2 linked regions of the Homo sapiens genome follow. The protein of the gene in region 1 purifies or fractionates together with the protein of each later gene. This does not show direct contact. Each region holds a gene or a part of one and is shown in the gene's direction. Other genes may lie near its edges.

What was found.
Region 2: the proteins of WDR43 (region 1) and SRFBP1 purify together in Homo sapiens (co-immunoprecipitation; one large-scale study listed by IntAct). This does not show direct contact.

The regions. Positions count from the first base shown.
Region 1 is NC_000002.12:28,901,062-28,904,729, forward strand, and holds part of WDR43 (WD repeat-containing protein 43), read left to right. Parts: intron 1-925; coding exon 926-1,063; intron 1,064-3,668. UniProt on the Homo sapiens protein: Ribosome biogenesis factor that coordinates hyperactive transcription and ribogenesis. Part of the small subunit (SSU) processome, first precursor of the small eukaryotic ribosomal subunit.
Region 2 is NC_000005.10:121,971,975-121,975,642, forward strand, and holds part of SRFBP1 (serum response factor-binding protein 1), read left to right. Parts: intron 1-2,221; coding exon 2,222-2,310; intron 2,311-3,340; coding exon 3,341-3,413; intron 3,414-3,668. UniProt on the Homo sapiens protein: May be involved in regulating transcriptional activation of cardiac genes during the aging process. May play a role in biosynthesis and/or processing of SLC2A4 in adipose cells.

The DNA.
Region 1 (3,668 bases):
CTGTAGAGCTAAGATCCTGCACTATTAAGAAGATATTCTCTTTTCTATGGTATTGGCTTGTTTTACAGTGAAAGAATGGATTTCTCAGAACTTTATGCTAAAAACATATAGGCTGGTGAGCCGTAATTTAAAAAAACACGGAAGAGAAGTTCTGAAATCATAATAAATACTCAGCATTATAAACTGATGTAGTGCTTTTAAGTTAGGGTCATTGTCTTTTTGTTGGGAAGACATGAGCTGTTAACATCACTTTTGAAATGAAAGAAGTCTTGTGGCATTTGCCACTTGAGTGAGACTTTTGTCTCTGAAGTCACTGAATCACTGAGCCAGCCCTTGACCAGTCAGTGGGGCAACTTCTCTCTTGTGTGCTCTGAGCTGCTCTACTAGTTAAAGCTATTTGTTGACTCAAATTGAAGTTAATGCACGTTTATAAAGGTAAAAACTTTTGAGGCTCTTTTCTTGACAACTAAGCTAGAATTTGTGGAAAAATTAGGAGAGATAAAGGAGAGTTGGCTGCTTAGATATGGACTTACGGATTCATAGATTTTTGGGTATGAATCTCTTTGGTTGGGGAGTGAAGGCTTCGCTTAGGTTGGACCTGTCAGGAGGGGCGGCCTGTTTCTGAGAAGTGGAAACAGCATTGAGGCTTCTTGGACCTGTTAGGAGAGTACCAAGAACATACTAGGTTTTCCTATTTGCTGCCTTTTTTCCATAGGGGTGGGAGACGGGGGACATAGAATTACGAGTTTCTCTTCCCATTGGAGGGATTTCTTTTTGAAGTAGTGAGAAGTAAATCACCCAATAGCTTCTCTCTTCCCCCCTTTTAAAATGTCTTTTGTGGGCTGGTGGGCATTTGTATTTGTTCATTAACGATGTTTTAGTATTTGCAATACTAAATAAAAACATTGTTTTTCTTTTTTTCCAGGAAAGTCCCCAGAGGAAAAAAAGGAAATCAGAAGCTGTAGGAATGAGTAACCAGACTGACTTATTGGCTCTTGGCACAGCAGTTGGTAGCATTTTATTATACAGCACAGTAAAAGGAGAGTTACACAGTAAATTAATAGTAAGTGTGTGTATATTTTATTTAAAAGTGATGTGACAGGGAAGCTGATTATTAGAGATTATTAAAAAAAAAACACTTCAAGGTATGTGATGGGATCTGTGCAGTAGGGACAGTTTTCAGTCTCATCTACGTTTAAATAACTGAATAGTAATATTTGATAAAAGCTATAATAGTTAACAGCAGTCCTTATTATGGGTCAGAGTATGAAGACTTATTGACTAGGTTTAAAATAAGGAAGGGTTACAGGAACTCTAAGGAATCATAGATAGCAGCTGTGGAAAGCAGCTCCCCACCTCTTGACCTAGGGGAATAAAGGAGGCAGTTGAAATTACTGCTAACACTGAGATCTTTTAGGGGCAAGTGTTGTGCTGCTGTTGCTGTCTCTTGAAGAGTGGCCCCATGGGCATGGGATCGAGACTTCAAACTGAGAAGGAGGCTCCAGCTGCCTGGTGCTAGTGTCTCTGATGGAGATGATGAGATTGGTTCTCCTAGGGTTGGATAAATTGGATATTGGGTTCAGCTGCTGCTGTTGGGCATTACCACTGTTGGGGTGATGCAAATAAAGAGACAGGAAGGAACAAGTCCCTTCTCTCTCCATCCTTGTCTCCCTCTAGCAGTTGCTATTGGTAGAACCTATGGATCGAGCTGGGAAATCAGAAATCAGGTTGCTGAGTCCCAGCATCACAGCAGAATATAAAGGATGGTTTGGCATTGGAAGACAGTAACCGAACTGGTCTAGTAGGTTCAGACAATATCTATTGCAGTGTGTTTTTGTTCGCTGGACTTCTGTATATAGGAGTGTTTTAAGTTTTTTGTTTTAAATAACATTTGTCTATAGGAAATTTGTAACTACATAAAGTTGAAAAGGAAAAAAATTTATACCTAAGTCTGTCGCCGAGAGGTCCTCTTAATAATTTGTATATTTCTTTGCTTTATACATACATTAAAAAAATATAGTTGGCTTTCTGTTCATCTAGTTTGTATCCTGATTTTTTTCATTAGATTACAACATAACTATCTTATATTTGTCAATAACTGGTTATAGAGATTTTTAGTGACTGCTTAAAATCCCAACAAGTGGGATAGTCCATTATGTTACTTAACTTGTTGACCATTTAGGGGTTTCCAGATTTTTAAATTGTTGTAAAACAATTTCTTTTTCTTACATGGATTCACAGAATTACTAACCTAAAATTAGTGAGCCAAAGGGTTGCTATATATGTAGTATAAAAATACTTTCTGGAATAATTTTTACTAATTTATGCTTAATATCAGTGATAGGAGATAAGTACTTTATCTCAGCAGTATCATTACCACTACTGAATAGCCCAACAAAACAGCAACAACGACAACAAAGAAACAGCTAATTTGGTAGAGGAATATTTTAATCTGATTTTAAGTTTGCATTTAGGAATGTATTACTTGTTTTTATATTAAGATTACAAAAATAATACTCAACTATAAATGAATTTTAAAGCATTCAGAGATCCATCTCAAGAAAGCATTCTTCCCTATATTCTTCCCCCCTCCTCCAAGTCGAGTGTGGTCCTCAGGTGAGCTCTTACACCTACTATAGGTAGGAGCCTATCCTTTAATTGGATAGGTTTTTTGTGTTCAGCAGGTACCTAGCATCTTGTGCAGTGTGATAGCTGCTCAGCTGCTGTGGCTGCTGGAGCCTAGAAGACTTATTTTTTTTTAAAGACAGAGTCTCACTCTGTCGCCCAGGCTAGAGTGCAGTAGTGCGGTCTCAGCTCACTGCAACCTCTGCCTCCTGGGTTCAAGTGATTTTCGTGCCTCAGCCTCCTGAGTAGCTGGGATTACAGACGTGCACCACCATAGCTGGCTCATTTTTGTATTTTTAGTAGAGATGGGGTTTTGTCATGTTGGCCATGCTGGTGTCGAACTCCTGGCCTCGTGTGATCTGCCTGCTTGGCCTCCTAAAGTGCTGGGGTTACAGGCATGAGCCACCATACCCAGCCTAGAACTCCTTTTTATATCATTTCACAACCTTACAAGATTGTAAATACATCTTCGACAGGGATGAATTTATCAAAAAGGAGTCAAGAGGGTCAGGGTGAGGGGTACTGGGATGGTATGGTAAGGTGGAAAAGGACCAGGCTTTGGAGCTAGTCTGTCCTGAGGTTGAATCCTACTAGTTGTATGATCATGTGTGAATAATTTAACTTCTCATCCCTTAAATGGGTATTAACAGCCTACCTTGCATGATTTTATTAAGACTTAAATGTAATAATGTATTGAAAGTGCCTGGCTTGTAAGTGGTATTTAGTAAATATTTGTTGAATGAGTAAGTGAACAAGTGAGTGAACACATCGCTAAATTGCTTTCCAAAAGGGTATGCTAGTTTACACTGCTGCTGGCAATAGTATTATGTAACCTCACCAGCATGGGCATCATAAGGCTAAACACATTGCTACAGGAACAGACTAAAAATGCCACTTTGTTTTGGTTTGTATTTCTTTGATTACTAACAAGGTTGAATATTTTGGTATATTTTCTAACTGAATTCTTTCTGTGGAATGTATCTGTTCATATCCTTTAGTTACTTGCGTGTATATAAGACTTAGTTCTTGGAGTACACAGCTGA
Region 2 (3,668 bases), on another chromosome or scaffold:
TGAGTTTGGACGTCTCTTTCTAAAAGCTTAGTTCTCCACACAACTGAAGAGGGAGTGGTCCTAGTGAACCATGTAATGAGGATGTTTATTTAGTCTCTAATGAAAATGACTCAATCATGTTTAAAAATCAGTGGGAAACAAATGCATTAAAAGGAAGAGAATGACAATGCTATGGTAAAGGGATAATCCATAGTAGAGGTTCTAGGAAGGCAGAAGAGAATGGGCTCTAAAAGACAGTTAAAAGATAAACTCAGATATGTGTAGTGGTATTTCTTATATTGTAACTTTATTCGTAAAGGAAGATGGGTCATGGAAGTACATTTGCATTCATGGTAGTAGAAAAATGATGGTTCCCAACTGATAATTATTTTCTCCACACGATTGAAAGAGAGAAAGGAGGACGGAGACTAGAGGATTTAGGAGAGTAGGCAAAAGCTTAAAACAGGCATTGTAGAGTGAACTGAACAGAAAAATACAGGATGGCTAGGAAGAATGGGGGTCCACTTGAGGTTAATTATGATGAATTTATAGTAGACAGAATGTTACAAGTATTTGCTGTTGGCATATGACAATGAAGAACTCAGAGTGTTTTTTTCATTCAGGACTACGGTTTCCTCACCAGAGGGGCAGGAGTTTAAGAAATTGGCAGATGTTATCATGTATCTAAACTGCATAAAAAGAGGAACATTAAGTGTAGGAGTCAGTGGATTGGTGGTCCTAATGAAGTCAAAGATGGTTGTGGTGGGTGGAGTTGAACAAGCAAGCTGATAGAGGTTGTGATCACAGTGTGGAATATTTGAATTAATGGTTTTAGAAATTGAATATTATGAGTGATGACAAGGTTGACAGTGTGGCCATGGAAGTGGATGGCTGAGATAGAATAGATTAGGTCTTTAGAAAATAAGTAAAGAAGTGAAGATATAATTATCAGATGGGCTATTCAAGTGGACATGCAAGTTACACAGAATGATGGCAGAACTTAGGGTGTAAAGAAATTGTAAGTTGGTTGCTAATATCTTCAGTGAATAAGGGAGTGAATGACATGAAGGGTAAGAGAAGATATTAATTAAATGGAAGAGCCTTAAAGAAACAGGATGATGTTGATAATGTTATTTTGGCAAGAAGAATTTGAGGAATTTTTTGTGCCAGGCACTCTTGCAGGGCAAAGAAAACACTATATAAATATTACAAGACTCCTGTTTTCTAGGAGCTTGCTGTCTATAGAAAAAGACAGCCACATGAGCCATTAGTAACAGTGCAGTGAGGTAGATGCTTTAATGACAGAATCTGTATAGTGGGGACCCCAGGGATGGAGTGGTTATCCTTAACTGAAGAAGTCATTGAAGGTATCACTGGAATGACTATATCTGAACCTGAATTTTATATAGTTCCTAAAGTGAAGAAGGGGAAGAAGGACATTCCAGGAGTAATTTTTAAGATGTATGCCTCGTAACTGATAGATGAAATATAAACTCCGTAATTACATGCCATTGCACTGAAAGCTGTTATAATGTGTATTTTTTTTATAACTATAATTTCCATTTTTTGGCCTATAGCTCTGCTTTTTGTTCTTAGAGTTAAACATTGTTCTCCAGTAGGGTGATTTAAATTATGTATTTGTATGTGTGTGCATGTGTGTGTGGGGGGGGGGCATGTATGTTTACATGCACATATGCTTGCACACAATGCCCTTGTGTTTGTGGATCTTCTTTTAAAATTATACTTGAAATAATTTGTTACTAAAAATAATGAAAGATTTGTTTTATAAATATGTAAAATAAATTGCTAATTAAAAGCTAATTTGCTAATTAAAATAGTCATTCAACAAATTAAATTCCTACCATTATGAGTGAGGCTTTGTTTTAACGGTGGGAATACAAAGATGAATATGACAGGCTGTGATTTCAGGGAACTCACTGTTTATTATATTCCAAGCCCAGCAAGATATAAGTGTAACATTAAAATACTTATCTCGGGTAATACTGTGACTTTTTAAAAAATTATAACTTGTTTTTCTTAAGCTCTCAGACACATTTTTAGACTGTTGATTTATTCCTTCACTATTTATGGAAGAGGTTTGATTTCATCAAGCTACGAATATAGTTAGACAATAAAAGTAGTTAAAGTGGTAGACTAAGTCTCAAATATTAAGACTCAAAATAAAGTGTGTTTGTTCCTGAAGTAAGTGCCTTTCTTCTAATTATTGCTTTATTCTTCAAAGGTTGTGAAGATGAGAAAAGAAGTGAAGAGAATTCGAGTTTTAGTTATCCGAAAACTTGTCAGGAGTGTTGGCCGACTGAAGTCAAAAAAGTTAGTCATTTAAAGTAATGATCTTGTGACTAATAAAATGTCAAAAGTTGTTTTTATTTGATACTTTAAAATGTTTAGGGTGGGATATAGAGAAGTAATTAAATGTCTTATACACCATTTTTGTTTTGTATGCGGAGATGATGTGAGTGAGATAGAATGTGCTGTGTCAGCATGCCCTTCTATGGTTTGGACCATCATTGCTCAAGATACAGGATGAATTTTTTTGCTGCTTTTGCAAAACTCTCTTTTGGTCTTTTTAGAATGAAATTCCCTTGGGCTTGTGTGTTTTGTGTTATCAGAAGTTATTTTAAGATACTGATACAGCTTAACAAATCTAGTAATACCTTAAGAATCAGTTTTGAAGATTTTATATCACATTTTTTCTTGAATTGCTAAGTAATTTGAAATCTTCAGTACCTTATGAAAGTGTTTATTAGAACATTGTGTTCCATGTAATTTTTTGGAAAAATACAATATTTTGTATTTTCAGTATCACTAGTGTTAGTGAAAAAGTATTTTATTTATAGTTCTTTTTATGATGTAAGCATGAATACTTAGTCTTCAAGTATGTTTTGTTCCTGATTAATTTCCTATTCTTTCATAAATATGTCAGAATATAGCCCTTCTTTATTTTTTCCTTAAATGCCAGAGAGCAAATTTTCATTTGATAAAATTATAGTCAAACTCTAATTGTAAATTATGACATTTATATTACATTAAATACAATGTACGATTGATTGATTTAAAAAAGTGTTATTAAGGAACTAGAGAAGGCAAACTATCAAAAGTAATAGTCATTAATACAATGGCAAGACAGTACTTATTTTTGCCATTTTCCAACATATGGGTTTGGTTAGTAAATTGAGGTGTGTTTTGGGAGTGGGGGAAATGGACAGTGTAGGATAGTGGCGTGTTTGTTATTTAGAGATTTATTACGCTTTTCTAAAAAGAAATGAAGTGATTATCCATTACACTATAAGTCTAAAATTAATGCTTTGCCTGGCTACATATCGTAATGTATTTTTTGCAGGGGTACTGAAGATGCACTGTTAAAAAACCAAAGACGGGCGCAAAGATTGCTTGAAGAAATCCATGCCATGAAGGTAAGGACTTGTGTGGGTGTGTATGTGTGTATGTTTCTGAGTATCCTGTTATCCTGCATTTTGTTTGTGTGTGGTATTGCTTATTTGAATATTCCCGAGAGTTGCGTAAGACATCTTGTATCAGTCTGTTTGGTGAAGAATGTAGCACATTTAGAAAATTGTAACATTTAAGCTTGCATTTTTCTGTTTTTGACTGAATTTGTTAAAGTGCTAGGCTAATTTGAGTCAAAATTGTGCCAAACTAAATTCATCTAT